Regions from separate parts of the Homo sapiens genome. Here all the other regions are reported to be linked to region 4. Evidence: microRNA targets listed by miRTarBase, many of them from high-throughput screens and not tested one by one. Region 4 holds a microRNA gene; each other region holds the end of a gene's coding sequence. Distances are from middle to middle.
What was found. The annotated mature microRNA hsa-miR-4729 reads UCAUUUAUCUGUUGGGAAGCUA and lies in region 4 at 2,254-2,275, opposite strand. An mRNA with a match to its seed (bases 2 to 7 or 8) in the 3' UTR can be bound and repressed. Matches are read on the target gene's strand: a 7mer-m8 pairs with bases 2 to 8, a 7mer-A1 pairs with bases 2 to 7 and ends in A, and an 8mer does both.

Region 1 (4,092 bases), not on the chromosome of region 4:
GCCCAGGAAAGCAAAAGTAATCCAGAAGCGCAGGCAGTAATGGGGCCCAGAACAAGCAACACACCTGTGCCTATGGATAAAGATTCCTCTGAATCTAACAAGGCTAATTGAAAAGAGAAAAATTCCATGTCAACATCCCTTAATAAATGTGTTCCCCCAAAATGAATTGGTTGGAATAGATACAACTATAAAGGAATAAAGAGCAAAGGGAACGCTTATTATTTGTGCATTGTTCCCCCTTTTATTTTAATTCACCATGCATGCATTTTCAGTAAGATAACTGTGCCTATAAATACAAAGGATAACATCAGTGCATATTTTGGAAGCCACTTCATTTCATTATTTTTTGTCAGCATTTCAGTGCAATTTTTTCCTAGCAGGGGAAAGAAAATCACAATACCATATGATCTAGTAGTTTTACATTCCTGTCTTCCCCTTTTCCTGCTGAATGCAGATCAGTTCATTTTTGATAGTGGGTAGAAGGACTTTGTAAATATGTTTCTGACTTCAGACAACCCACATACCTTTAGGGAATGATCTCCCAAAGCTCACTGGATTTTAGTATCGCGGGATTTCCCAGAAGGCAATCTAAGTTGGGGCTCTACACATGTGATTCCCCATTCATTGTATCCACTCAATACTACTAACTTCTTTATATTAGCAATTTATGGCCCTTGTCATAACCAATGTTCGAGAAGTAAACCATATATATTGTTTTCTTCAGAATTAAACAAAAAGTTCTAAAAACTATTTTAACTTCAGGGAAACATGCCCGAGTCACAGTGACTACCAGAGTTACTAGAGCATGTACTCTTATAACTCACTTACCCAGAACTCATTTCCAGTGTTGCAGGCTACCTGGACCTCACTTGATAACTCCACTCAAACTAGGTACTTTAAGCCTCCTCAGAGCCTTTTACTGGCCAGGTCTATGTTCATTTCTATATAAACACTCACACAAATAAATGCCATGCTGTTGTCTTAGTTACTTGAATATTTTACCATGGGATGAGTGCCAGTCGAGAGGTGGCCCAGAATAAAAATATTGCTGTTGTGATGGTTTTAAACAGGTTTTCTATTCCAGCTTTGTTCACTGGATGTATAAGGAATGTCAGAGCAGAGAAAACTCATGACAGGTCAGGGGTCAGAGGAACACTGCCACGAACACTCCTTTTGCAGTGTTTAATTTCCTGTTTAAAGAATGTAGTAGAAATATTGGGTTGACTATCATCTTAATTCTTTACTCTTATAAGGGTATCTCTCTATCTTGAGGCCATTACAGTCAGGTCTGAAATTTAAGGAAGTTGGAACTTTGGCCATTTTAGTTAGACCCCCAAAGTCTTTGACAGTACTTCCAGTGACAACACAATAATCATTTGACCAAAGTGAGTTTCAGGATATTTTCCCCAAATTCAACTTCTTGACCCATTAAGCTCTGTGATTCTTTGCAAGATCTTCTGTTATTAGGATGATGGTATTGCCATGTGCTATCAAGAAACATTGAAAAGAATCAAGACATACTGGTAAGTTTACAAACAAAGCTATGTTGTAGTTAAGACCAAATATCTGCTAATATATTAATACAGAAAAGAATACCACTTAAATTCATAAATTATAATTCTCTTGACAACTCAACTCCCAAGATAAACTTTCTTTTTCACTTATGTAAAACTTTCAACTCCATTCAAACCTTCAGGACAAGGAAACATTAGCTGAGTCTGTCATCCTAGTGTGAAGGCGAGAATTACAAAAATTCAGAAAGATATTCATATACTAATCATCACTAAGAACAGAAATCAAGACAGAACATCTTACATAATAAATGTGCATCAATGAAAGATTTCAAAAGGAAGAAATTAGTCATTGTTTTCCTCCTACAGATATCATCCAATTGCCTTTATTACCTGTGATACACATACACACATGCACACACACGCAATAAAACAAATTAGGAGTGCTTGGCACACAACTATTAATTGACAAATTATTTTTTGGTTACCACTGAAATGCATGAGGAATGCTGAAAATAAAACTGGTCTTTTAACCTTCTTGTAGCACAAGTCTATGAAAGAGCTATTGGTACCTTAGTAAAATACAGAGTTACATGGACGGATGGCTATTAACAGTTTCTTTTTGGCTGTGTCTATACAAGTCAGGATGTAATTGAAAAAGATAGTTTCATTTAGAAATCTGAAACCTTAACTCTGGAGCTTCAGTTACCTTGTTGGGTTGTTACAGACATCATAAAAATGACACAGCTAAATCCTAGCATGGGCACAGCCAAAGCCCGAATCCCAAAGGCAAACAAAAACGGCTACAAGCAAGTAAAAATGTAGCTTTGTAGTTTAAAATTTTTATAAGAAATTATTAGGTTGTGTGTGGAATACAACTTTCTCTAAAACAAACAAAAGGCCGGACCCTTATTCAAGTACTGTGTGTTGTCCTTAGTTCCACAACAACACAGGAACACAGAACTTAATGTGGATTATGTGGAAAGGCCACACCATTAAACTGTGGGCAGTAAGAACTCTGAAAACATGGAGAAAAGGGTGATAATTCAGTTCAGGGTAGAGAAGGCTGAGTGTGGAGTCATTTAGCAGAAAATTTTGTGGATATGAATGTTTGATTTTTTTAACACAAGGAATGTTTGACCAGCTCTCCTCATCCTCTCTTAATGCAGACAAAGAGCAAAGCAGTAAAATGGAGCCTGAGGGTATTAATTTCACAATAAGGAATACAATTTGTTGATGATGAGAGTCATTTGATGTTAGAAAGTGTTGTGAAGAAAGGCTGGGAAATCTTCCCAAAAGAATTTTAAGAAAGAGTCAGAAGCTCATCCATCTGAAATATTCTAAGAGAGGGCTGCTGGGAGCAGGAGCACAGCCCTTGGGAGGTCTAGGCCCTGGCATCGTGTGCGTCATGTGTATATACATACTTAGTTGTGCTTGTGTTGCACAAATACTCATGCATACGGAGTCAATATAAACTGGCACATATAGATTTGAGTGAAAAGTCATATAAATCTGCCATTCCCCCCAACCCCATAAACAAAAGGAAAAACCAAAATTAAAAATTCCAAACTTATGCCATTGGGCCAGATCTTTTTCTACCATACCCTCATTCAAAGGAGGGAGGTAGAAGGATGAGAGAAAAAACCCAGTTTGGGATAAATGACTCCCAAGGCCTCTCAGCTACTTTTACGTAGCTGGCTCTCATTATATATAAGATAGTTAGCACATGGGACGAAGTAAACAAACAAATAACTAAAAAAGATTTTCTTGTACTTCCACATCTAGAAAGAAATCTACCCTGTGGATTTACATGTTAAGGTGAACTAGGTAAAGTAGGCAGTAGTATATCAATGGACTATTGTGTTCTAAGAAATGTGCATCATTAGTTGTATTTTTTTCCTTTAAAATATGAATTCCTTTTAGGAGGTTAATTTCAAAATGACTTTTTTTTTTCTTTTCCCGCCCCCAGCCCTCCCTTATAGATGATACTTCCTTAAAAGTTCAGATTGCCAAGGATGTTTTCTCTCAGGAAACCGATCTGGAATTTTGATTTTTAGGAAATCCTGGATACATTTCTCCAGCTCCTCCTCAATTGAGAGCTTTTCTTTAACAGCTTTTTTTTTGCTGCTCATGTTCGATTCCCTGGAGCCTGAAGTCAGAGTCCGGAGTAAGTCGCTTTTCCGCCGCATCTCTGACTGTTGGATCAGCTGGACAGGGCCCTTCTTGATGGGACGGTCCAGAGTCTGGATGTTGGTCTGGCGTGTCACGGGACCACAGATGACCGTCTCCTGGGGAGAGCTGGCCTCAGACTGGCTGTCGCAGCTAGATGTGGAGAGGTCATTGCAAGACGTGCCGCTCTCCCCTTCTTTGTCACCTTTGCCATTCTTGCAGCAGCAATCGCAGTGTGAGGGTGACCATCTGGAAGGCTCACCTGAAAAGAAAGCAAAGGACCCAAAGGATTAATGCCAGCCAGGTCAGTTGGAGTAGCAGTATAGCACTTGGACATACACAGAAACACACATAAGAGAAGCATCGCAGAACCATGCTTTTAGAAAAAGTGGGGTGGCACCCAGGGTGGGCT
Region 2 (4,092 bases), not on the chromosome of region 4:
AATAAAAATTACTAGGGGAGATTTCAGTTCAGTCTCAAATGGAAAGGAACAAAGTGATGGCATTCTCATCTATATACACCAAACACTCTCCCATTAAACTACACACAATTTCAAAAGAATCCATGATCGAGCTCTTACAAAGCTTAATCCTTCTCCCATATTTTTAAGATAATGAATTTACCTGTTGCTGCTAAATTGATAATTTTTAAAAAATATTTCTATGTGTTTTAAAATGTGTGATCCCCAGTATGACAATAATGTTTGGAGACTTTTCTTTTTACATTTTTTTAAGTAAAAATTGTTTAAACTTTCTGAAGTTTCAGGAACTTGTAAAAGTTTATTAACAGGAAAGAAACAGCCATCTCTCTAGGATAAGATATGGTTAAATAAACCATCTTCAAAAAACTGGCTTCCTACCCTAGAATTCCTGAGAATGCTTGCAAATTTTAAAGCAGGAAAACAAATGTTAAAAACAGAAACAAAAAACACTGTTAAATGCTCCCAGAGTTAGTCTTCATCTAAAATATATATTTATATGTATATATATACGCACTTTTTGGTCTTTTTTTTTTAAAGTTTTTAGTTTTTTTCCCTTTAAGCTTATGATGGAAGAACATTTTAGCTTCTCATGTTTATTTTTACATATTTCAAATCCCTCATTATGTCTTGTAAACAAGAGGGGCTCTAGCACCCGGCTTTCACCGTAGTATCGTAAGGAACTCAACTAACCCATAGTGCAGGTCAAGGAACCAACAGGCAGGAGGAGAGGAGGGTGGGGCAGGACACAGCAGTGAACCAAGAGCGGCAGTGGACAGGGTCGCCACTGGCTCGCAGGAGCCTTGGGATATGCTCCTGGCCCAGGGACACTAAGATTTAACCTTCTCTAGATGTCTGAATACAAGCTGCTCTTCACCTGGTGGTCACCGCACGACAGCACTTTGCTCCACACAGAGAGCGGTCAGTGGGGGCTGCTGGAAGCAGAGCTTTTGCATGGGGAACAGTGGTGGAAGGGGCACGGTGGTGATTCAAATTGCAGAGCAGGAAGAGGGCATGCTCAAGGCACCCAGCGGGGCCACGTCAATGCTGCAGATGCCAAGTGTGACCACCTACCCACAGAGGGCTCATGCAGGCTTGTATATGTGAACACTCACTTGAGTCATGCCTGTCAATCTCTTTTGAGGCTAGGTTTATAATCAACAGGGTAAGCCAGAAGGGCTACAGAATTTCCCATTCTTTGTCTCACAAAACCACTGAAATGCAAATAACTTGTTTTAGGCTTTTCCTATACACACCCACCCACCCACCTACACACAGACACAAGCTAAAAAGTCAAATACATTAGGCATTGTTGTATTGTATCCTTCACTGAAGACGCTAAAGAAAGAAAAACTCCCTTGTCCTCAATAGCAGCAAGTTACAGAGGACAGTAGAGGTCTGCTCCCACCAAGGGTTGGAATGGGCAGGTATTTGCTGGTACAAAATGTCGGCACTTTATGTTAAACAGCATAATGCAGACTGGGATGTCCACACAAGTGCTAGCACGTCACCGGCATCCATCCCCCCACCCTATCTGGTTTTTCGCCCCCTTCAGGTCTGCTATAATTCTCTTCACAATAAGCAGTTTGATACATTTTGATTCCGACATAAGTACATACATGTTGGTGATAACTGTAGATTAAACGTTGACCCCTGTTCGGCCCAGAGTACTACTACATTGATGCTTAAAAAAAAAAAAAAGTATTTAAATACCGAAATTAAAAAAGCAAAATTACAAGGTGGGGGGAAGAGGTCAAAAATCAAAAAAAGGTGCAATACTTAAAAGTCTTCGCTAAGTTATACCTGCCTAAGCAAAACCACATACACAGGAAATACACAACACAGAGAAACAAAAGGAAACGCTTGAAGTACACACTGGTTTAAGAACATTCGTTAAGTAAACGTTTCTGTCAGTGATGGCCTGGTGCTGTAACGCGCCACGGCCTGGCACAGGTAACGCTCGGCGAGAAAGGAGCAGAGGGAGTAGCTGCAGATGCTTTCAGGAGGCTGCTCACCACTTATTCTTTTCTGTTTTCATAAAATGAAAAAGAGAACCAACCAACAGAAATATGTAACTCAACTTCACCTAATTTTTTGAAGAATTTCTCAAACCTGATCATAAGGAAAGAGGGAACAAAGTTTCTCTGTTTTTGAGACATCGCATCATCAAAAGTTATCTTCCGTTCCCATTTCAAACTAACGAAAAGGCCTGCATGAAACTTAACAGATACTCAGATGTGCCTGGTGGCCATTCACTTAAAAAAAAAAAAAAACAGAAATAAACACACCGTTGCTCCAAGAGGTACCTCCTGCTCTAGTTTTTTGGACTTGGCAGTGCTCCACTCTACTGCTAGGTCAAAAGAACAGCCAGAGAAACCCCACATTCAGGCTAAGTTGCAAATGGAAAGGAGCTCCCTGCTTTCATCATTAAAAAGCACTCTGTTCATCTTAATGCAGCCCAATGGAGTTGCTTTAGTAGCAGTGGCTCTCCGGGCCTGTGTGTTCTCATAGTTAAAAAAATAAAATAAAAAGCAGATGGGCCGGCCAGCCAGCCTGCAGACTGTCAGCGATGCAGCTTTCTGAGAAGTCAGGGTGGGGCAGGGGAGAAGGGAAGAACACAGGCACACACACAGAGACAGAGAAGGATGCACGCGAATGCACATGAACACACGTGCACACACACACCAGAACGAGCATGCCTGGGCAGTTACATGTGCCAGAACACACTGGTATTTATCAACCAGCCAATCACAAATTTTTTCCTTTTTTTTTTTTTTAGGTTTTTTGTGTTTTTGTTTTTAAAGTGAGGCTCCGTCAAGTCTTCCCTCCCCCCTCCCCCAACAATTCTTTTGAATTTCCCTCCCTCCCAAACATGGTAGACCTAAGGACGGAAACACACCCAGTGCAAACAAAGTTAAAAAGCTATTTTTTTTCAGTATATATGTTTCTTAGCAACAACTTCCATATAACATGAAAAAAGTGAAAAACTAGAAACTAATTTTTTTAATTTTTTTGTGTTTAAATTTAAATGGTATGTGTACTTGCTTCACATTGTCTTTCTAGGTTGGCGTTCATGATTCAAGTATTTCAAGAGTGATATGTTCTCTTTTTGGATTCATATTCCAAACGAAAAAACTGAAGTTATAAGGGAGGCAACTATGTGCTCAGACAGTCTGTCAATGACCCACCTTTTTTTCTCTCCGTTTTCTTTTTTCCTTTTAAAAATGTATTTATTGCAAGTTGAAAAAAAAAACGAAAAGGTCAAGTTAGTGCTGCTGCTGTTCCAAAAAAGGTCACGAGGTCAGAGTTGAAAGTTCTAAGTTCAGATTGAATCCGACCCTCCTCCCAGAAGGTCACCAGGTAGTAAAGGAGCAGGGCTGCCCATCCTATGGGGATCTTCCACCGTTGGGACTCCCCATAAGCTAGAAGAATAGTTTGGGGGCCCCCACAATGAAGCGCCAGCAAGATCGGCCCCGCTGCTGCCACCAGCGCTGCTGCTCCACTGCCCGAGCCCAGTGGACCCACCAAAAAGATTCAGAGCAGGTCCCACGGGATCTGACTGGTTCTGGCCGGTCTCCAGCGACTGCCACCCCGCAGCTGGCGCACTTGGGGTTGCTGCAGGTGTAGGGGGCTGAGCTTGTGCCAGAAAGCGGCTGACTTCATCATCAGTGGCAAACTCAGCAAGGATGGTAGTGTTTCCCAACACACACCTGGAAGAAGGGAGGGAAAGAGAGCTATGGATCTCAGGAAAATCCTAAAGCATACGGAGGGAGCGACTGCAGTCCTTGACATTCAATGTGCAGTCCTTTGACTAGAAGCTGCCATATCCATGAACGCTTTTTAGAATGCAAAGTCCAAGCTCCACCCAAGACCTCTGGGTCCAGAACTTGTATTTCAACCAGACCGCCAGGTAATTAAGAAGTAATGATGTAAACCAACAAGGCATCACCAAAACTCAGGATAACCAAGGACTACTAGAGAATACTATATTCTGATATTTCTTGGTGTATGGAATTTATATATTCTAGACAACTTAGCTATCAAGAAAAACGTGTG
Region 3 (4,092 bases), not on the chromosome of region 4:
TGAATCTTTGCAGCCTGTGGCACCTGCAGCAGCCAGGTCTGCCCTCGGTGGGGGGTGGGGGGGGGGGAGGCGGGGCTCTGCAGGCCGGGCTGGGGCTGCCTCCAGGGAGAGGACCCTGGAGGCTGGGGACAAGCCTGGGGGAGACAAACCAGTACTTTCTACCACATACCCTGGTGTGCTTTTAATCCTTGTATGACATGCACATTACTTAAGATTTGAAAAGCTGGTTGGAGGCCAGGCACGGTGGCTCACACCTGTAATCCCAGCACTTTGGGAGGCCAAAGCAAGCGGATCACTTGAGGTCAGTGAGATTGAGACCAGCCTGGCCAACATGGTGCAACCCCATCTCTACTAAAAATACAAAAATTAGCCAAGTGTGATGGCACGTGCCTGTAATCCCAGCTACTTGGGAATCTGAGGCATGAGAATTGTTTGAACCGGGGAGGCGGAGGTTGCAGTGAGCGGAGATCGCACCATTGCACTCCAGCCTAGATGACAGAACGAAACTCCATTTCAAAAAAAAAAAAAAAAAAAGTCTGGTTGGAGACACTATATATAGCTAGACCCCTATTTCTGCTGGTACGTATATGCACCCACACACATGCACACAGCACACAGCACACATGGAGGGGCTGGGAGGGAAGCATCCAACTGTTCACATTGGGATTGTGGGAGTGAGGGGACTGGTGGGTAACACTGAGGTTTTATATCGTTTTAAGTTATTTAAGCTTTTACTAGCCTGTAACAACTGAAAAAGTGTGTTTTACACCCTAAAGGTGCAGCTGAGGACCTGTGCCCATGCCTGGCCCCCAGGGACTATTCTCAGAGCTCACCCGCGGTGTGAGCCTGGGGCAAGTTTCCAGACCCAACACACCAGGCTCTGGCCTCAGGCCTGCCTCCCAGCAGCCTCTGCCCCCACCCTGCCCACCACCAGTCTGAAGGAAGAGGCGCGGAGTCGTGGGGAAAACATCCACTTTAAGCTTTATTACAACACATTGTCTCCAAATACAAAGGGAGGGGCCGGGAGCAGAAGGTGCGGCTGTGGCGGGAGGGGCTCCAAGGGGGGCTGAAGGGCCGGCAGCCCAGTCTACAGAGACTGGAGGCTCAGCGGGGGACCTGCACCCTCTCCTCCGCTGGACTTCCCAGCAAATAACAGGAGGGGCCGGGTCCATTTTGGGGCGATCCCAATGCCAGGCAGTGGCCAGGTGGGAGGGGCCGGAGAGAGGCTTGGAGAGGACTCAGGGCTGGGTCAGGTGAAAGCCACCAGGTGGGGCCCTGGCCCGCCTCCCGCAGCACTGGAGGAGGCAGTGGCCAGGTGGGAGGGGCCGGAGAGAGGCTTGGAGAGGACTCAGGGCTGGGTCAGGTGAAAGCCACCAGGTGGGGCCTCAGCCCGCCTCCTGCAGCACTGGAGGAGGCAGTGGCCAACACAGGACCTTCGCCCCCCTGCTGGCTGCTCACTTTGCGGTAACCAGTGCCTCAAGAGTGGGAGCAGAGACAGACTGAGACAGACAGCCCCCCTCAACGGCCTGCAGAAGGGACAAGGGGAAGGGGGAAGGGAGAAGGGGGCCCAACCAGTGGCCCCAGACCACTGTCTCCCGGACAGCACAGGGGTGGGGGGCGAGAAGCGGGAAGCCAGTGCATCCTCCTCACCCAGGGTCTCCTCAGAAACCCAACGCAACAGACATATGGGAGGCAAATTTACATAATTAATAATAATTAACCAATAATAATAAATACTTAAACCTCTAATCCATAGATTGCAAATACAACGATAGCTTATTTTCTTGGGGGAACAGGAGTGGGTGGGGACAGAGGGAACGGGAACAGGACTTTTGCTGAAAGGAGGGATGACAGGAACACAGAGCTGTGGGTGAAAAGAAGAACAAATAGAAGAAACAGCAGAGAGGGCGGCTGGCTGGGGCGGGATGGGCGCCTCCCTGGCCCTGCTCCAGGACTCAGGACTGGGTCCTGCCCTGGGCTGCCTCTCCGGCCAAGCCCCTGGCCTCTTCCCACAGTGACTGGCCCCACTCCTAGACCCTAGGACATCTGAAGGGCAGGGGTCCCAATGGCCCGAGGGGGTATGGGGCAGGGGCAGCAGGCTGACCCACCTGGGCCCAAAAGCCACTTGTGTTTGGGGGCTGGCATGCCACCTAGAGAGAGAGCACCCTGGGAAAGGGGTGAATGGGAGTTTCTCTCCTGAGCGGCCCCATGGGGGTGGGGGCAAACGAGGGGGCTTTACCTGTCTTGAGGCAGTGCTCCCTAAGTGAAGCAGGCCTATCCCAGCAGCACAGGGGCTTGGCTGGCGCCTGAACTCCCTGTGTGAGCAGCACCTGCTCACAGAGCCCCTCAGCCTGCAGGTGCACACCTGAATTCCAAGTTCTGCCTGGGGCATGGCTGGGAGGGGGGCGGGGCAGACCTGGAACAGAACCCTAAGACCACCCCCTCCTCATACCTGGGGGTCCAGGGCTTCCTGCCCAGTGGAGCCAGCACTGGCTAGCCAGGCGCCTCCTGCCTGACCCCCGGAGGCCAAGCTCCTCTCCTGCAATGGTGCCACCCTGCCCGGCAGGCAGCTCTGGGGGCATGGGCAAGGGAGAAGGGAGGGCCGCAGCCCTCTAGGAATGGCCTTTCTGAGCCACTCTGTGGCTGGACTGGGGCTCTGGCAGGAGTTGGGGGCACTAACACCTCTGTCCTCCCCTGGGCTGCACCTCATCTGACGTTCCAGAACCCCCTGCCCGAAGCCCCTACACACACTGTTCTATTTCTCAGCCCCTCTGAACACCCTGGCACCATGAAGCCCAATGCCTGTCCTCCCCTGCCAGAGAACAGCTCTGGGGCAACGGGCAGCGGGGTGCCCTCCTTGCCACCAAGATTTGGTGCCTGGAGCTGATGGAGGGCTGGCCGCACCTCTCCGGGGCACACCAGCTCCTGCTCCTCCATCCTATGGCTTTGGTGCAGAGCCCTAGGCCGGCGCAGAGAAGGGAGGGAGCAGGGGAGGTGGGTGGGGGGAGAAGGGGGGTTCTGCGGCTCAGTTTGTGGCAAAGAAGTTTTTTTTTCCTTTTTTTCACCTTTTTGTTATGTAAAAAGTGCACGAAAGCTCGGCAGCCTTTGCAAAGGTCAGCAGTGTTTCCTGGGGCGGGGGAACTGGGAGGGGCCCCAGGCCTGGCACCCAGCTTGCGACTGAAGGTGGCCTCGTATTGCTTAGAAACGTATGTTTCAGTTTAAATACCAGACAGTAAAAATAGAGCTCGAGGACCACCCGCACTGTTGCCAAATCATTGCCAGAATGAACAGCTTAAATAAATAAAAAATCGAAATATTTACTTCTCGATAAAAATCCCAGTAAAACCATTTACCTTTCTTTGCATTATATATAATATACATTTATAACGGGCCTGGCTGCGGGCGGCGGGGCCGAGGGCAGCGGAGGGGTCAGGACACCTCGATGACCTCCACGCTGCCCGAGAAGCTCGCCTGCTTGCCCAGGGCGGCCAGCTCCTCGCCGCGCGCGCGCCCCTCCACCATGCCCTCCTCGAACTCCATCTGGCAGCTGCGGCGCTTGAACTGCGTCTCCGGGGCCGGCTCCTCGGGCCAGCCGGTCCGCGCGTCCCGGGGCTCAGCCCTCGCTGCCTCCCGCCGCCGCAGGTCGCTGCCGCCGCCTGGTCCCGGGGCGCCCGCCCGGCCGAAGGGCGCAAACAGCACCCCGCCCGCCCCCTGTGCGCCCTCGGGGCTGAAGCACCAGGGCCCGTCGGGCGACGGCGTGCCTGGGGAGTCGAGCGGCGGTGCCCAGGCCCCGGGGCCGGCCGGCTGGCCAGGGCCGGGCAGCCCGGGCGCCGACAGGGCCGAGAGGCCGTGCCGCGGAGTCTGCCGGGCCGCATCGCCGAAGTTCAGGCCGAGGCTGTGCGCGGGGGAGCGCGCGGGGGAGCCGGCGGGGGGCCGGGGCCGCCGGCGGGGCCGTGGGCGCGCCTCAGGCGCGGCGTCCGGGCTGTCCGGGCTGGGCGAGGACAGGCCCAGCGCGGCCCCCGACGGGCTGTCCAGCTTGCAGAGCTTCGGGGCCTCGCCGGGGTCGGGGGGCCCGGGGCCGTCGGGCCGCCT
Region 4 (4,000 bases):
CACGCCTGCAATCCCAGCACTTTGGCAGGCCAAGGCGGGCTGATCACTTGAGCCCAGGAATTTTAGACCACCCTGGGCAATATGGAGAAACCTCATCTCTACAAAAAATAGAAAAATTAGCCGGACATGGTGGCGCATGTCTGTAGTCCCAGCTACTCAGGAGACTAAGGTGAAAAGATCATCTGAGCCTGGGAAGTTGTGGCTGCAGTGAGTTGTGATCATGCCTCTGTACTCTAGCCTGGGCAACAGAGTGAGACTCTGTCTCAAAAAAAAAAGAGAATTTCATCCATTTCTGTATTTGTATCCATTTCTGTATCCCCAGTGCTTCATACAGTAGGATTTAATATATGCAGGGTGATGAGGGAGGTTAAGTGACTTGCTCAATGCCACACTGAAAATTTAGCACAAAGCCAGGTCTGGAGCAGAGGTGGCTTGACCCTCATTCAAGGCTTTTCAAATGGTGCCACAGACTCTCCTCAGCAGGGCCCCACACTGTCTTCCCATTACAGTGATGACACTGTAGGAAACTATGTGCCCTATCTGGCTTGATCACCTTGTAACCTATGGTGGGAACCTGTGGGTGCTAGACGGCTGGGGCTGAAGTCTGGCCTATGGAATAGAATTCTCACCAGGGTGTCAATTAAGACCTTGTCAATTAGCACAGTGCCTCAACCCCTACACTCTTCATACAAGCCACCATGCTGGTTTGAGATTCCTCTTGAAATCACAGAAACCTATTTCTCCAACACCCATTTCACAACAGTCATTCTAATCATCTTACCTAGGGTTAAGTAAACCAGTCCAAGGGCCTAATTGGGCCTTTCACCTGTTTTGCAAATAAAGTTTTTCTGGAAAACATCCATGCTCATTTGTTTATATATTCTCTGTGGCTGCAGATTTGAGTGGAGACCCTATGTCCAGCAAAGCGTAAAATACTATCTGGCCTTTATAGAAAAAGTTTTGCAGACCTTTGGATCTAGCCCAAAAAACAGGGAATCAAGACTGCAAACAGCCCCTCCCTTCTACCAAGGGACTGGCTGCCCCTACTCTGGAAGTTAGTGAACCAACTGGCTTTTGAATGAAGTCATTTCTTTTTTTAGCCCTGGTTACAGGCCTGGGATCCAGGAGGAGATTTTGCCTGTCAGAGGCACACAGGGACCTGCAACACCTAGCACATGGCCTGGCACATAATGGCACTCAATTAATGTTTACTGAATAAATAAACAAAGACATGAGAAATCAGCCAGGCTGAGCCTCGAACAAAAGTCCATACTCCTCCTGTCAGTTTCAAGGTGGCCAGTCACACAGGTACCTGGCAGCAGCCGGGTGACCTAGATTTGTCAGACCTTATCTTATTGGCTTTCCTTTCTCGTGTATTTACCCAGCACCTGCCCCCACGATGCTCAGAGCAGGTTGGCCTCTTGTTTTTATAGAGAAAGAGATGGACAGGGAGGAACTCTCCTCCCACACAGACACACTTTGTGTTTTTTCTTTTTTTCTCCCGCTGCGGGAAGAATCAAGAAATATGGGGGCTTCGAGCTTCAAAAAGCTCCATGAAGTCTAGTTTCACTGGCTTCCTCTCTCCTCAGGCTTCCTAGGTGAATGTTTCTGGCATGAACCTTAACGGCCCTCTCAGAGTTGTACCTGTCGTTTGGAACATTTGGCATCTGAAGGGGAAAGGCCAGCTGTGGATAAAGCTGGCAGCTTTCAGAAGGTCAGGAATGTAAACAAAGCAGCCCCCACCCAGTGGGGAGAGGCCTGGTCCTGAGAATACAGACATTCCTCCAAAGATGCATCAGAGAACAAGGGGCTGCCCGACTCGGCTGGGCTAGCTCAGGCCGACTCTGCAGGGGAGGACAGGGACCATCAGGGAAACAAAAGGCACTTCAGCCTCTCATGAAAATTAGGCAAACTGAATGGAAAGCACTATGGAAATGCTGGTTTTTCAGCTGCCCCGGATAACCTTAGGGGCCAGGCTCAGGAAGGAGATCCTTGTTGCTGCTGCCACCAACCGCTTTTTCAGGTGCTGGGTCTTCCAGGAACCAAAGGGTACCGTGTGACAGGCTCAGTGAAGGCAAAGCTTGCATCTGTTTGCCACTGTAATTCCCAGGGTCTAACACGTAAGAGGAGCTCACACAATGTGGAATAAATGACAGGGCCCTCTGCAGGAGGGTTTGCTCAGGGATTTTTTGTTTTGGTGAGGAAACACTTTTCTGTTTCCTCATTTATCTGCTGGGACGCTAAGGTCACAGTTAGCTTCCCAACAGATAAATGAGGAAACAGAAAATTGCTCTTGGTGGAGCCAACCCTAACAAGAAGGAAAAGGAGCTCCTGGGCCCCCAAAGATAGAGAATTTTCCTTTTGATGATCATAATTTACCCCTTCAAAGACCCAAAGGTGTCAGGGGCTAAAGGGGAGGGGAGAACTAGTGCCACCTGCTCCACCTCTTGACATCACTGTAGTCTGGAGGGGAGGGAGTTTATGGACTGATTAGATGTTGTTGTTTCTAGCGGCAGCTGGCAGAGCCATCTCCTCCTCTCTTCCTCTCCCCCTCCTCCTCCAACTCACTGTCCAGCCACCAGCAATAAGCCAGGGAGAGGAGGGAAACAGCTAAAGCTCCCCTTGGCTGGGCAGCCCTTACCCCAGAGATAATACTCTGGGTCACCAGGTCAAACCCTCCTCTCAGCAGCTTTGCTGAGTGCTTTGGAAACAAAGGTTATCAGAGATTCTCTTTTGGTTTTGTTCTTTCAAGATAAAGAAAGTGGTTTCTTTCAAAAGATTCCCCCCCACCCGAAGTGTCACAGAAGGAATCAAACTGACAAGCAACTCTCAGCTCCAGCTTCACTCTCCAGGCCAGGGACTTCTCTTCCAGCCGCCTGGGCTGCTGTGTCACAGCCAACTGAGGTCCTCGGGTGGGTCAGAGGCACAGTAACCACCTGACAGACTAAAAGGGAAGGAGGCAGGGACAGGCTTTTCCATTTACATTCTAGAGAGGCTTCGCTGCTGCCTGCAGGTAAGGCCCCAGAAAGCTGTGGTGGAAGGTGCTGCTGCTATTTCATCACCTCCTGAGACCTGCTGGTCCCCCTGGGATAAGGAACAAGCGATTCCATGAGGAGAGGCCTCAAAAGACGACAGATGACAACTGTAGGGCTCAAGGGCAACTGCTGAGACTCTCCAAAAACAAGGGCAACAAGCAAGAGTGCCAGGCTTGTTGGGGTGCCAGGCCCTAGTTCTGTCACTTTCCATTTGGTTTTCTTTAGTGACTATTCATAGAATAACACTAGCTTCCAACATTTATTGAGCACTTATCACGTGCCAGGCCCTGTGGTAAGAACTTCACATCAATAACCTCATTTAATTTCCACAAAAATCCTATCAGGTATCTAATATTACTATTATTCCCATTTGCCAGTGAGGCCATTAAGACGCAAAGGCGGATGGGCGCAGTGGCTCATACCCGTAATCCCAGCACTTTGGGAGGCCGAGGCCAGTGGATCACCTGAGGTCAGGAGTTCGAGATCAGCCTGGCCAACATGGCGAAACCCCATCTTCTACAAAAAATGAAATAAACAAATAAATAAATAAATAGCCGATGTGGTGGCAGGCACCTGTAATCCAGCTACTTGGGAGGCTGAATAGGAGAATTGCTTCAACTCGGGAGGTGGAGGTTGCAGTGAGCTAAGATCGTGCCATTGCACTCCAGCCTGGGTGATAGAGCGAGACTCTGTCTCAAAAAAAAAAAAAAAAAAAAAAAGACACAGAGGGATTACTTAATGTACACAGCTACTAAATGAATAAGCCAGGTGGTTGGGCTCGGAGTTATACCACGAGCTGCTATGTTATATGGCCTCATATCATCTTATGCTACTACATTAGACTCAGAAGACGCAGGGGGGAAGTAGAAGGAACTTTAAAGACAGTCTAACCTATTGCACTCATTTGGATAAATGAAGAAAAGGGAGAGCCAGAGAGATGAACAGTCTTGCCCAAGATCACAGCG
Region 5 (4,085 bases), 52 Mb from region 4:
TTATTAACTCATCTAGTATTGCACACCAAGCTGGACTAGAAACATGGCTGTAGATGCAAATATAAGCTGGCTACAATACCACCTCTTTAAAGGAAACCTATGTGTCCAAGGCATGAACCAGGCATGGGCACGGATCAAAAGCCAAGCTGGGATGAACAAGGAGTTGCTTTGTCCCTGGCTGATATGAGATGGGCATCACCAACCAGATGCCACTCTACCCAGGTCAGGGACAGTCCACAATGTCTTCTGGGACTGAGAGGTCTCACCCTTGATACAAGGTAGAATGGCTCGCTGCTGGATGGCAGAGGGCTTCTCAAAACCATACGCGTAGATGCCACGGAGAAGGGACTCCGAGAGGTTCATGTCATCAAAGCTGTCAACAATCTCATTCCAGTTACTCTAGGGGATGCAAAGAAATTAAAGCTTGAGTCATGGAAAAGGTGGAGCTGAGCTGTAGTCTCCGAGCAAACAGAATCTGGTGCCTACTAACAAAAGCCTCAGAGCTTACAACCCTCCTCCCTTTAGGGAAACCAGCTGCTTCTAGATGATCTGGGAAATCAATCAAGAGGCCACTCTAACTCTATACGGCTGAAAGTTGTAATGGGGGAGGACAGAATTCCATTTCTCCAGTCTCACCTCGATGACGCCTTCGGGCTCCATCCCATCGGGGCCATTGTCTCTGGATCTGTTGGTTTAAAGCATAAGTTTTGTCCCCTGCCCGACCGAAGCACTCAGAAATCCTGACAGCCGGGCTCTGTCAGGAGTGGCCTGCATGATGCCATCAATCTGCTGTCCCAGATCCAACTCCCACCAGCTCCCAAAAAATACCCAAAGGAGGAGTTTCTATAAAACTGAGGCATTTGCCCCATGCAGGCAGCGGCTCAGGCCAGGCCACCCCCGACATAAGGGGGTGACCCTTTCTGAAGACAGGCCGGCAGGCGTGCCGCCGCGCTCACGGTGCCCAGAGGTGGTGCTTGCCGCCGGGTCCACGTGGGCCCGACCCAGCCGCTTAAAGCCCAAGCGCGTGCACCTCCCACCGCAGCACCAGCGCGCTGGAAGTCCCGCCCTTCACCTCCCAGATCGGAGGGTAGGACATCCCCTTCCCCCCACGTCATCCCGCCCGCGCCCTCCCCCACTCCCTCCAGCCGAAGCCCCCCCCTCGCGTTGCCCGGATGTGGGAGGCCGCGGGCGGTGGCGGCCTCGCGCACAATGAGCCCAAGCCGAGCTAGCAAAGGGGGAGATTGCACAACACTTAGAAGCGAAGCAGACTGGGGGAGGGGAACGCCTCAGGCCACCATGTGCTCGCTCCCTCGACCACCCGGCGGCGTCTCCCACCCCTCCATGAACAATCCACATCCCGCCCGCCCCCGTCGCGAAGTAGCGTCGCCCTCCCATACCTCAGGCCGCTCACCCCCGAAGGAAGGTGGACCTGCCCATCCGCAGTTTGCCAATAGCCCGGCTTGTGCGGCAAAATGGACCCGCCCGCCCGGCGCCGGGTGGGCTCCTGGTGCCTCACGCGGCCGCTCCTCGGGGTTAGGCTCAGTCCTGGCCGTCAAGAAAACCAGCACACTGAACGGCCGGTTTCTTCTCCCCGACCCGTGTTTTAGCCGCGACGAAGTGACTGGATCTAAGGACCAGGCACCCCCGCCTCTCGCGAGTGGTACCGTCAGAATGCTCCGGAACCCCGCGCGCCGTCCCTCCCCCGGCACAGGGAGGCAACCGGACCTGCCGGCTCTGGGCCACACATAGTGGCGGCCGCCTCCACCTTTCTTTCCCACGCCAGGTCGCGACCCCGTCTCGCCACTCAGCGCCGGGGCTTCGCGCATGGCACCGCCTCGGGTCGAGGCCTCGTAACAGACCTCGCACGCCTGACCCTAGCCGGGCTGTCCCTACCCTCCGCCTCGACCTGGTGGCCGCGTCGGCCGTGGGTCTTCCCCCTCGCCCCTCCAAGTCGGACCCTCCCCCCACCCGGTTCGGTTTCTCCCGCAACCCTGGTGGGCCTCTCAGCTACCCCCGGCGGGCCCGTCGGAAGGGGGCGGCAAAATAAGCAGCCACAATCTCTTGCAAATGCCTTTCTTACCGGGAATCCTGGCTCGCAGACATGATCCTTAGAAACTAGGGCGGAGTGCCCGCCTATCGACAACTTATAGAGCGCCCGACTCCGCCCCGGCCATCGCATTGGTTTGGCCGCCCCGGCCCCGCCTGCCGGCGCTCAGCAACTCGGCATGACGTTAGTTCCTAGTCGCTCCGGCCCGCAGGCACCATTGGATAACTCGAGTGCCTATCAAGGTGAAGGCCCGCCCCGCAGCCTCATTGGCTGGAGGGCCCGCCTTTCTCGCCGGTACGGAAGTGACATAGAAGAGTCAGGCCTCGAGGCCTGGCAGCCATCTTGGGGCCCTGCACTCTCACACGTGCGGAGGCGACAGTGCCTTGGTCATGTGGCTCCGTAGGCCCTATCACGCAAGGGGGGCGAGGTCTCAGCCTCCAGAGGCTTCCGGGCTCTGGGGGTTATCACTTCCCTTTACTTCTGCTCCCGGTCTCCACTGGACTCAAATGTTATTTGTTTTCCCCTGTAGCAGAGATGGATTCGACACTGCCTGGACGTGTGCCAGGGATGAAGGAATCAACAGCGATATCGTAGGGATGGGAGGATTCCCCTGGCTGGATGGTGGAGGGATGGAAGAAAACTGTAAAGGGCTTTGGGGTACTATCATGAATCCTGGTTGGTCCCCTCCCCAGTCCCTTGTGTCCAGTTCCCCAGCTTCCCTCTCGGATGCCCTTATTCTTGAGGCTTATCTACTTTCCCTCCTTCCTGCTCTCTGCTCCCATCTCGGGGATTTGTTTGGGTGAAGACAAGGTGTTGGCAGTGCCTGAGCCAGGGATGGAAAGCTGAACCCTTTAGTCTCAAGAGACTGGCTGGAAGGTCTGAGCTAAGCATATCCACTAATTTGAAGCCCCTTAAGGAAGACCACCACTTACGTATCAACAAAGGATCCTTTATTGACCAGAGCAGGACCGTGGCATTTATATATTTTTATATATATATATATATATATATATATATATATATATATATATATATATATATATATATATATATATATATAAAAGTTTGAAGATCTGGCAGGCAGTGATCCTATTGTCCGCCCACCACCCCCAGCACTGATTTCCTGCTCCCTGCACGGGGAAGGGGGAGGATGACTGCTCCACCCAGGCCACAGGGCCACACTCCCCTGCAAACAGAGGAAGAAAGGGGCTTTTCTGTAGCCACCCCCTGCACATCAGAAATCAACAAGTATTCTCTCAAAGAAAAAAAAATACAGAAATTGAAACATTTAAATATGAAAAACCAAAGGGAAGTGAGTGGGAAGAGGCAAGAGAGGAAAGGAACTGGAGTTTCTTGGGAAGGGACTCCCATGTCTCCCTTCCCATTTATGGGCTTGGGGTCTGGGGTACGAGGCTCACACAGTGAGTTTGCAGTGACACAGCTCCTTGTAGATCTGCCGACGAAGTTTGGGCATGTCCTGCTGGGTGAAGCTGAATGGCTGAGACAGGGCCAGATGCTTGCAGTACTGGGTGTTAACAAAGCAAGCCATGAGAAACCCCCCGTGTCAGGACCTGTGCTACACATTTCATATGAGATGTGTCTCCATCCTTCAGAGAACATCCCCAAAGGGAGCCAGGGTCCCACAGCCTGGGGTTCAAAAACAGCCTGACTCTAAAGCTAGTGTTCTTACTTGATAGAATGTTTTAGATGGAGAAAATACACTGAGTTGGAGGTTAGCAGGGAGCTCTATGAAGGCCAGAGGCCCAAGACTAGAGACCCAGTCCCAATGTGGGATGGAGAAGTCCAGAAGAGAACCAGTGAAGCCAGTGTTTTGGTGTTCTAAAACAGATTACTTCCTGCTCCACAACTGACTATGAGCCAAATGAGGGGATGCATAACAGCCTCCCGACCCTTTAACCCAACTGACTTCAGAGCTAGGGGAGGTGGCCCCATCATCTGCTTACCTGCAACACAAAAGCACCACAGTCACTGTCATTATTCTGCCTGGCCACATTCTAGAGAAGAGAAAGAAAGCAGG
Region 6 (4,000 bases), not on the chromosome of region 4:
GCCAACAATAAGGGATAATAAAAAAAGAGTTGCAAAACCCAGACATGAGGTTTGGCTAAGTGCCTTCTGATAGTCAAGACTGTTGTTTTCAGCAAAAGAAAGAGAGTTGTTTGGTACACTGTAAAGGCTAAGGATTTAGAGTACAGGGTATATAAACCATATGTGCATAAAATGTGTTTTGACTTTTTAAGTAGTTTTAAAAGACAAGAAGAAATGTAATCTCTAAAATGCCAATAGAAATTGAAACAATAGTCACAACTTCTTAAGCTAAACACAGGCTATTTTCTTGATGTGTGACAGTGGTTAGTGTAGTTTATAGTTTTGTTTTTCAAAGTGTGGCCTGACAGTTTACCTGGGAATTGTGCAGAATATCAGGCCCTACCCTAGACATACTGAATTAGGATCTGTATTTTAGCAAGATCCCAAGTGATTTGTATGCACACTTAAGTTTGAGAAGAAAAGTGTATAGGGCTATATACTGTGTCACTGAAGGGGCAGGCACTAATGGAAATTGCTACTAAGATAGTTGTTACAGACTAGATTTTTACTGGCTCATTATAGTAGAAGGCCATTAAATATATACATATTCTTTTATCGTAGCCAAAGAAGAAGAAAAATATTTCCCATGATACTTTTGGTACAACTTATGGAAGGATTCATATGCAGAAGCAAGACCTAAGCAAACTACAAACCAGGAAAATGAAGGGGTTGAAGAAGCGACCTGCAGAAAGGATAACAGAAGACCACGAGAAAAAGTCAAAAAGAATTAAAAAAAATTGATGGAACTTAGCCAGCCACTACTGTTTCATTGTGTTCTACTTAAGAGAATTATCAAGCGTCAATCCATTCAGAGTTTCTTATAAGATCTTATTATATATTTTTATAACATGATAATTTTACGATATATTATTATGAACAGTAATATACTAGTATTAAGTGTAAAGTAAGCCTTTTATTTGAGACATTACACCCTGGTGTGCCATTTTCTCTTGTGATATCCCCTGCCCTCCACAAATTCTTCTTTCTCATTGGGTGGATGGATGGGTGAGGAGGGATCTCCATAACCATTGGGATTTTTTTGAATTTCTGGCCTTAGCTAAAGAAAGCCACAGAAAGCCGGACCCGCAGGAGCTGTGTAAACAATCTCAGTATGAATTACCTGGAAAGTTAACCTCCTCTCCCAACATGGATCTACATTCTGATTTTTATTTTCTACTTTTATTTTGCCTGAAATCCTACTCGTTGACATTTGAGATTTTAAGCTTTGTGGCTGAAAATATATAGATCTCTGAGAGGGATGTCTGCTATCTGATTATTGATAAATTACACTACTGTTGATTGTTTTAAGAGACTCTACTACTAAGTAGAGCCCACCCCGCTTCTCTGAGACGAAACCTGTGTTTTTTGGTTGGTTTGTTTTTAAGAGATGGGGTCTTGTTCTGTCACCTAGGGTGGAGTGCAGTGGCACAATCACAGCTCACTGCAGCCCTGAACTCCTGGGCTCAAGTAATCCTCCTGCCTGAGCCTCTTACGTAGCTGGGATTACAGGCATGAGCCACTGAGCCCTACTTTTTTTTTTTAAAGCAATGAGGTCTTGCTGTGTTGCCCAGGCTGGACTCAAATTCCTGGGCTCAAGTGATCCTCCCACTTCACCTTCCTGAGCAGCCGGAACTACAGATGTTGGTCCACTGCACCTGGCAGAAAAGAAGTTTTGATAGGGGCAGAAATGAAAAAGGAGAAAACAGGTGAGTTTTAAGGTGCAGGGCACTTTAGGGTACTGGGTAGCCCTAGGTAGCTAAAGGTTGCATGAAGGCCCTGGGCGTTTGCAGATGGTGTAGAAGCCAGCCAAAGCCTAACTACTTGTTTTGAAAGTTTCTTGAAGACAGGCCTTGTGCCTAGGAAAACAGAAGCTTTCTTCTTCCTTCTACTAGTATTGCATACTTGTTTTTCTGGAATAGGGTGTTAAGTTCCTTGATTCAGTCCTTGACAAGGAATCTCCTTTATACAAGTGCCAGTAATGTTGTAAAGGTACAGACATACGCAAATCATAATTTGTTACATGAAGTACCAGTGCTTTCTTTTTTGTTGTTTTTTGAGACAGAGTCTCGCTCTGTCGCTCAGGCTGGAGTGCAGTGGCGCGATTTCAGTTCACTGCAACCTCCACCTCCCAGGTTCAAGCATTCTTCTGCCTCAGCCTCCCGAGTAGCTGGGATTACAGGCACCCACCACCACGCCTGGCTGATTTTTTGTAGAGACAGGGTTTCACTTCAATTCCATGTTAGAGAGCTCCGTGCCTGTGTATACATGCCTTTATGTAAGCTTGCTCAGCTACAGATCAACAATGCTGGCACTAAGCAAAAGTTCGAGCCTCAGCTTTACCTTCTACCCTTTCCCTTCTCTTTTGAATCCATTCCTTAGCTTTCCCTAGTCCTCTCCGGATAGCTGTTACTCTCCTCTTGCCAGAAAAATGAAGGAGCTGGTATCATTTATACTTTTTGTTTGATTATACGTTTAACCAAAGACCATACAGTCTCGTACCTGAATCAGACATTTGCACTTTATATCTAAATGAGAAGAAGGGGCTCAGATAAGTCGTTTGCTGCCATCTGGAGGTAGATGGACAATAGCTGAGAAGGGGAGCCATGAAAAGAACATCAGGAGTGATGGACGCATAGTCCTTCCCCAAAGCCTCGCTCATCACTGGTAGGAGGCAAAGCAGTGGGTCCTCCTCACCAGCCGCTTACGGGACCCTGCCATGCCTGGACCCCTCTATCAGGAAGACCTACCCCAGCACTACTGGAAAATCAGCCAATCTTAACCCAAAGATGGCCATGATTTCTGTATGTGAGACGTCTTAAGGGTGTTTTTGTTTGTTTTAATCAGCCCTCTTGTTTGAGATTTGGCAATACATTTCTGTTTTCTAGGTAATTTCTGTGTCTGATGGTAGAGGATCTAATAAGTATTGGAATGCTTCCTATTTGCTGATAGAAGTACCAAATAGTATTATTGAAGTCTAACAAAGACTTTTTGTTGAGAACACCTTGTAGTGTTGTACTATCTGGAACTCTTGAGCTGCCATTTATATCACTTTTTGTGGAGAGCACATCTTGATTTTCAGTTGTCCTTACTTTAGAATACAACACACATAAATTGGAGACTATGTATTCATTTCAATGGAGGTGGTAAATTGCCTGTTTTAAGTTTTACTTAATGTTGGGTTTTGGTAGATGAGGAAAGCATTTTGGTTATTTGTTTTGTTTTAAATACCAAATTTCTTATATTTTTTCTGGAATATTAATACTATTACCAAGCTATTATTTCATGGAATTTGGGTTTCTTTTTTTTTGTTTTTTTAAAATTAAGTGCTGTTTGTTTTCTTGGTTATTGAACATAATCCAAAGTAGAGATGTTATTACTCAATTCAAGAAAAGAAAGGGCTAATAAAACTTAACTTCAAGTCAGTTTTCATTTATCTGATTAGCTACTTACATGATCTCTCCTTCCTTTCCTTTTTATGTCTAGCTACTTAAGGCTAAAAATGGAAGGCTTCAAAATGGAAGAAGTTAAAACTACTAAACCCATTGCTAAGATCCGAACAACAAAGGAAGGTTTGCTTTTATTGAATTTCAGAAATTGGTGCTTTGTCCACCATAAAATTAAGAGACAGTGCAAAAAATACGAGCTTCATTATGTTTTTAATGCACTTTTACTTAGAAATAGTCAAAACATAACTGCATTTAAGACAAATGCATCCTAGCGTATATACATTATGAAATTGTAGAGAATACTGTTTGATATTCATTGAAAGAAGCTATTCTGAAAAAGAAGATGAAATGGGCTTGCTTACTTGAGGTATATGCTAGCTGTGAAAAGAAAGTCAGCTTGCATTTAGATGTTGTTTGTCTCTCATATCAACAACTCGAGTTGCTCAAGTTTAAAAACAGCAAGGATGTCATTGTGTTTCTCGTATCATTCAGAGTGTGCCAGTTAGACCATGTTA
Region 7 (4,092 bases), not on the chromosome of region 4:
TAGCATTGGAGAGATTCTTCAAGATGGACTAGTCTGTCTCCTTTGTTGTAAGGATAAGGAAACTTGAGACCTAAAGAGATTAAGTGATTCACCTAGGATCAAAAAGTTGACTAACGGTAAAGACAGAAATAAAGTTAATATGCTGCATTTTAAGGGTTAAGGATAAGAAGAGCAAAATAATTCCCGAACTTCAACTTTCCGGCCGGTATCAGTATTTATAGCAGCAATCTGAAGATATTCCTATTCATAAAGAGAATTTAGCTCACACATTAACAAATGAAGGTACTACTGATTCAACACCTTAATAAATGTGCTTAATAAATAGTATTTAATGAAGAATTAGGACAATCTAGAGCTCTGCCCATACATACCTTAGAGAAAGAAATGGTTTCAAGACAATCCCTCTCTTTAAATTTAACTACAAGGCCATTATACTCATTTCAGTGCATAAACCTCATATCTATTATCGTTTCCTCTATTTAAATGTTTTGGCATTTTACAGTGCTTTTGAATCACATCTCTTTCTATTGTATACATCATGATATAAGGTAAATTACTTACTTTCTTTGAAACAGAACAATTCACCATCTAATTGAACCTCAAAATGTTCATTGTAAATCTGATACAAATTTCAAACTGGTCAGGGGACATAAAATGTACTGAAGATCTGATACAAAGCACTCTTATTTAATACAGTAACTCATTTCTGATGATGAGTCAATGGCTTGTTTTAATTCAAGTATTTAAGAAAAAAATATCTAGTCAGTACAGGTAGAGGAAACTGTGTTTAGCCTTTATTCACATTTCAAAACTTTGAATTTGCAAAGAGCAAATTTCTATTACATAAAGGTCCTGGATTTTAAGACTATAAATAAAATAATTCTATGACTTTTAACAACTTTTAAGACATTATTTTTCAAATATAAAAAACTTAAAGTGTCAAAATGAAGTGATTTGGTATGTTCCAGGTTGAAACATTTTCAGGATTTTTTAAATCTTTTATCGTTTTCTTACAAGTAAAACAACTTTATCATGTCATGAAGGTTTAGACCTAGAAAAATATAAGACACAGAAATTTCTTGAATATTTTGATAAAAATGAAAAAAAAACTGAGTTGGTATTTAAATACCAGACTATCAGGGAAAACTAATTTGTTTTATGAATGAGTCTTGAACTTTTCAGAGTATCTCAGTTTCAACTGCTTATGAGAGTTAGTAAGATTTTAAAGTCTCAATAAATTTAAAATTTTTCATACTTATTAATCTGACAATGATAAAAGGGGAAGAGTTATTAGAATTAGCAAATTTAGTTAGCAAAAATGAAAATTAAAACTAAAAGGACAACAGACCGTGAAAAATCCTTCTATCAGGTATTTACAACACAAATAACTCATGCAAATATGTATAGAAACCATTAAGACATTTATTTATATAAATGAACAAAGTATACAGATAAATCACATAAAAGCAAATCAGAAAAACTTTGATTTCTCTCCTATGTTTACTAAATTAGCAACAACATATAAAACCCCTACTCAAATGGTAACACTGTAAAATGTTACAACTCTTTGGGAATGCAATAAGGCAAACATAAGTCATAAAGTTCTTCATATTATTTCACTAAATAATCCCCCTCCCAGGAATTTATCATAATAAAATTTAAAACTACTTAAGTATTCAGCAATAGAGAAATACTCTAAATAAATTAAGAGTATAAAGTAATATAATTAAAATAATCATTATCACAACTACATACATATAGATAATATCAAATGAAAAAGTCAATTTAAAAGTATAGGTGCCTTAAGACTATGTGAACAACAAAAAGGAAAATAGTAATATAAAAATTTAAATTCTAAAGTTACTACATTAAGATGGTAGAGGTAACAGTAATTTTCCCATTTGGCAAAACTTCAGTTTTAAACATAAAAGAAAAAGAGTGGCTATCGTTTTTTAAAAATGGTCAACAATCTCTACTCCTCTATTAGTAAACTCTGTGTCAATTTTTAAGGTGAAAAATACAGCAGAAATACCTCTGATGTGTTCTAAAACCTAAGTATTTCTCTATTTGGACTTTAATTTGCAATGGAAGAGGACATATTGTAACCTGTACCAGTCCAACAGGCAGATGTAGCCACTGCCACCTTTGGTTGACACACACTGTGGGGCACTAGATATGAACAGGTAAAACTGTAAATTTTCATTTTATGACTTTGTGTGTTTGATATTTTATGTTAATGCATCATGGTATTAACACTCTTTTTCCTTACAGTTTTGTCTCATACTAAGAATTGTTTTAGTGTTTTCATTTAAAATATGTTGCCAATATGTTGAAAATGCTGTACTGATGCATATATAACATTTTACATTGAGTTTAAATTGGGTTAAGCACAAATAAAACCACTTTAGTTTACATATTTTAAATTTCAGAGTTAGAGACTACAAAGCAGGAAAACACCTTTAAAAAGAAAGGCAAAGCATAAACATCTAAAAACTTGTATTTTATGAAATTTCTCATGAGTCTTCCTTTTGAAACTGTATTTGAGTAAAGGAAGAGGGATCTGAATGTTTCTACAGACTGGCTGCATAATATATTGCTTTCCCATAACAAAAATATGAAGCACTCATTATATATGAAGTTTACTATTACAATGTGGCTACATTTAAAAAATTATGGTAAAGAGGGATAGGGAACTTTCAGAAAGCTATCTGAATGAAAATGTTTGAGAAGAACTGTTTTTAAATATTTAGAGCAGAAGAGATTAGCTGGAAATGCAGGGCAGCCATCTCAACATCTGTAAGTATCTCTTGAAAGAGCAAACTAAAGAGACAATGTCACAGGGAACACCCTACAGAGAAATATAAATAAATGCTAAAGAATAAAGTTTTTAGTTGAAGACACATTCTTTAAATTTTAAAAATTATGTTACTTAATAACTTGGTACAAAGTGCTTGACCATGTTGACATTACCATGAAAATATCTCATAGCTGCCAAAATACAAAACTATAGGAGCTGTCTTCTGCTCTAATGGTAGGAAGGTGACTTTAATTAAGTATTAGTCTTCTATTTACAACCTGTTAGTGGTAGCAGTAATAATTTGGTTCATTTACAAATATTATCAAAGCTTATTCATTTCCAAGATCTAAACAAACACAGGTATTACTAGATGATGGCCATTTTATCAAAGAAATGTTTTTAATAATAAACTCTCCAAAACAGAAGAAAGAGATCAATAATGGCCACTTTAAACAATTTAAAGAATTTCAATAAAATGAAGCCACCAGGAAGCCTAAATAAAGTAAAAATAACACTAAATTATGGTCATTTTTGTGAAACTAAAGAAACATGGAGCTCATACTTTTTTCTTTGATTAGGAAATTTGTTCAACTTTTTCACAAGACTGAAGACAGATCAAATTCAGAAAGTTAATTTTTCTGAATCCAATCATATTCATATTTTCACAATACAAAAAATCCTAAAACATTTCACAACACAACAAACAACTGAGCCAACTGCAAGGCCATTTATAATGCATAGAAAATAAATTATGTGCTATTGAAACTGTAAATGATAGACATTTTTCTTCATGCAAAAAAAAAAAAGACATATTGTTTGTCTTTTGAATGCAGCTTGTCATTCTGCATCTGCACACAGGATTCAAATGTCAACTAGAAAATGATGATATTCCCAGGCCAATCTCAACACGTCTTAATTACATCATCTTCTCTCTTTGGCTCATTTAGAGTTATATATTCACAGCTCAAAACCTGTTCATTAGACTCAGGTTTTGATTTTTTAAGTGCCAACTCTGCTGGGAAAAGAGATGAGCAATGCTCAAGAGACTGTGCAATGTCATCAATTGTCCATTTGTCTTCAGGAAGGGCATGTTCTTCTAGCGTAAATGGTCCCTGTTTGGTTCGGGTCAGCTCTAGCACATTGGCACAGGAAGATAGTTCTATGGCAACAAAAGGTAGAAAAAAAATCCAGAAGATAAACGATTCAGTATTTCATAGTCTGTAATTGTTCAAATGACCGTACTCAATTGAAATCTCTCAAAACCACCCAAAAGTATAATAATCCAATATAAGAAC

Region 1: miRTarBase lists KCTD16 as a target of hsa-miR-4729. Seed matches in the 3' UTR shown: 7mer-A1 at 2,590-2,596 and 7mer-A1 at 2,179-2,185.
Region 2: miRTarBase lists TNRC6B as a target of hsa-miR-4729. The part of its 3' UTR that is shown has no 7-base or 8-base seed match.
Region 3: the mRNA of DUSP8 is a reported target of hsa-miR-4729. Seed matches in the 3' UTR shown: 7mer-m8 at 3,379-3,385.
Region 5: the mRNA of SENP3 is a reported target of hsa-miR-4729. Seed matches in the 3' UTR shown: 7mer-m8 at 3,430-3,436 and 7mer-m8 at 3,022-3,028.
Region 6: the mRNA of RPF2 is a reported target of hsa-miR-4729. Seed matches in the 3' UTR shown: 7mer-A1 at 2,566-2,572.
Region 7: the mRNA of TRUB1 is a reported target of hsa-miR-4729. Seed matches in the 3' UTR shown: 7mer-m8 at 3,523-3,529, 7mer-A1 at 3,104-3,110, 7mer-A1 at 2,305-2,311 and 7mer-m8 at 1,420-1,426.

Annotation. Positions count from the first base shown.
Region 1 is chr5:144,473,510-144,477,601 of GRCh38, reverse strand. It overlaps KCTD16 (potassium channel tetramerization domain containing 16), which reads right to left. Exons shown (of 4, transcript NM_020768.4): 4 at 1-3,942. The coding sequence ends at 3,488. Among named protein-coding and RNA genes, the nearest start is that of KCTD16, 300 kb to the right of the region's middle.
Region 2 is chr22:40,322,508-40,326,599 of GRCh38, reverse strand. It overlaps TNRC6B (trinucleotide repeat containing adaptor 6B), which reads right to left. Exons shown (of 23, transcript NM_001162501.2): 23 at 1-3,746. The coding sequence ends at 3,359. Among named protein-coding and RNA genes, the nearest start is that of ADSL, 22 kb to the left of the region's middle.
Region 3 is chr11:1,553,089-1,557,180 of GRCh38, forward strand. It overlaps DUSP8 (dual specificity phosphatase 8), which reads right to left. Exons shown (of 7, transcript NM_004420.3): 7 at 963-4,092. The coding sequence ends at 3,430. It overlaps LOC124902608, which reads right to left and starts at 2,392. Exons shown (of 2, transcript XM_047427956.1): 1 at 1,861-2,392; 2 at 1,519-1,592. The coding sequence starts at 2,392. The coding sequence ends at 1,519. RefSeq lists an enhancer at 2,279-3,076.
Region 4 is chr17:59,364,367-59,368,366 of GRCh38, reverse strand. MIR4729 (microRNA 4729) reads right to left here and starts at 2,284; the gene lies at 2,213-2,284. The region is part of intron 2 of YPEL2 (yippee like 2); the gene reads right to left. RefSeq lists a silencer at 325-619 and enhancers at 1,176-1,945, 1,946-2,715.
Region 5 is chr17:7,570,860-7,574,944 of GRCh38, reverse strand. SENP3 (SUMO specific peptidase 3) reads right to left here. Exons shown (of 11, transcript NM_015670.6): 10 at 4,012-4,062; 11 at 2,976-3,572. The coding sequence ends at 3,462. It overlaps EIF4A1 (eukaryotic translation initiation factor 4A1), which reads right to left and starts at 2,120. Exons shown (of 11, transcript NM_001416.4): 1 at 2,081-2,120; 2 at 637-685; 3 at 267-399. The coding sequence starts at 2,103. SENP3-EIF4A1 (SENP3-EIF4A1 readthrough (NMD candidate)) reads right to left here. Exons shown (of 22, transcript NR_037926.1): 10 at 4,012-4,062; 11 at 3,466-3,572; 12 at 2,081-2,661; 13 at 637-685; 14 at 267-399. It overlaps SNORA48 (small nucleolar RNA, H/ACA box 48), which reads right to left and starts at 232; the gene lies at 98-232. RefSeq lists enhancers at 763-892, 355-1,110, 1,111-1,866, 2,373-2,442, 2,563-2,622 and 2 more and silencers at 1,033-1,172, 2,073-2,132, 2,143-2,202.
Region 6 is chr6:111,024,803-111,028,802 of GRCh38, forward strand. RPF2 (ribosome production factor 2 homolog) reads left to right here. Exons shown (of 10, transcript NM_032194.3): 10 at 601-3,461. The coding sequence ends at 780. Among named protein-coding and RNA genes, the nearest start is that of RPF2, 45 kb to the left of the region's middle.
Region 7 is chr10:114,974,987-114,979,078 of GRCh38, reverse strand. It overlaps TRUB1 (TruB pseudouridine synthase family member 1), which reads right to left. Exons shown (of 8, transcript NM_139169.5): 8 at 1,403-3,956. The coding sequence ends at 3,700. Among named protein-coding and RNA genes, the nearest start is that of LINC02626, 18 kb to the left of the region's middle.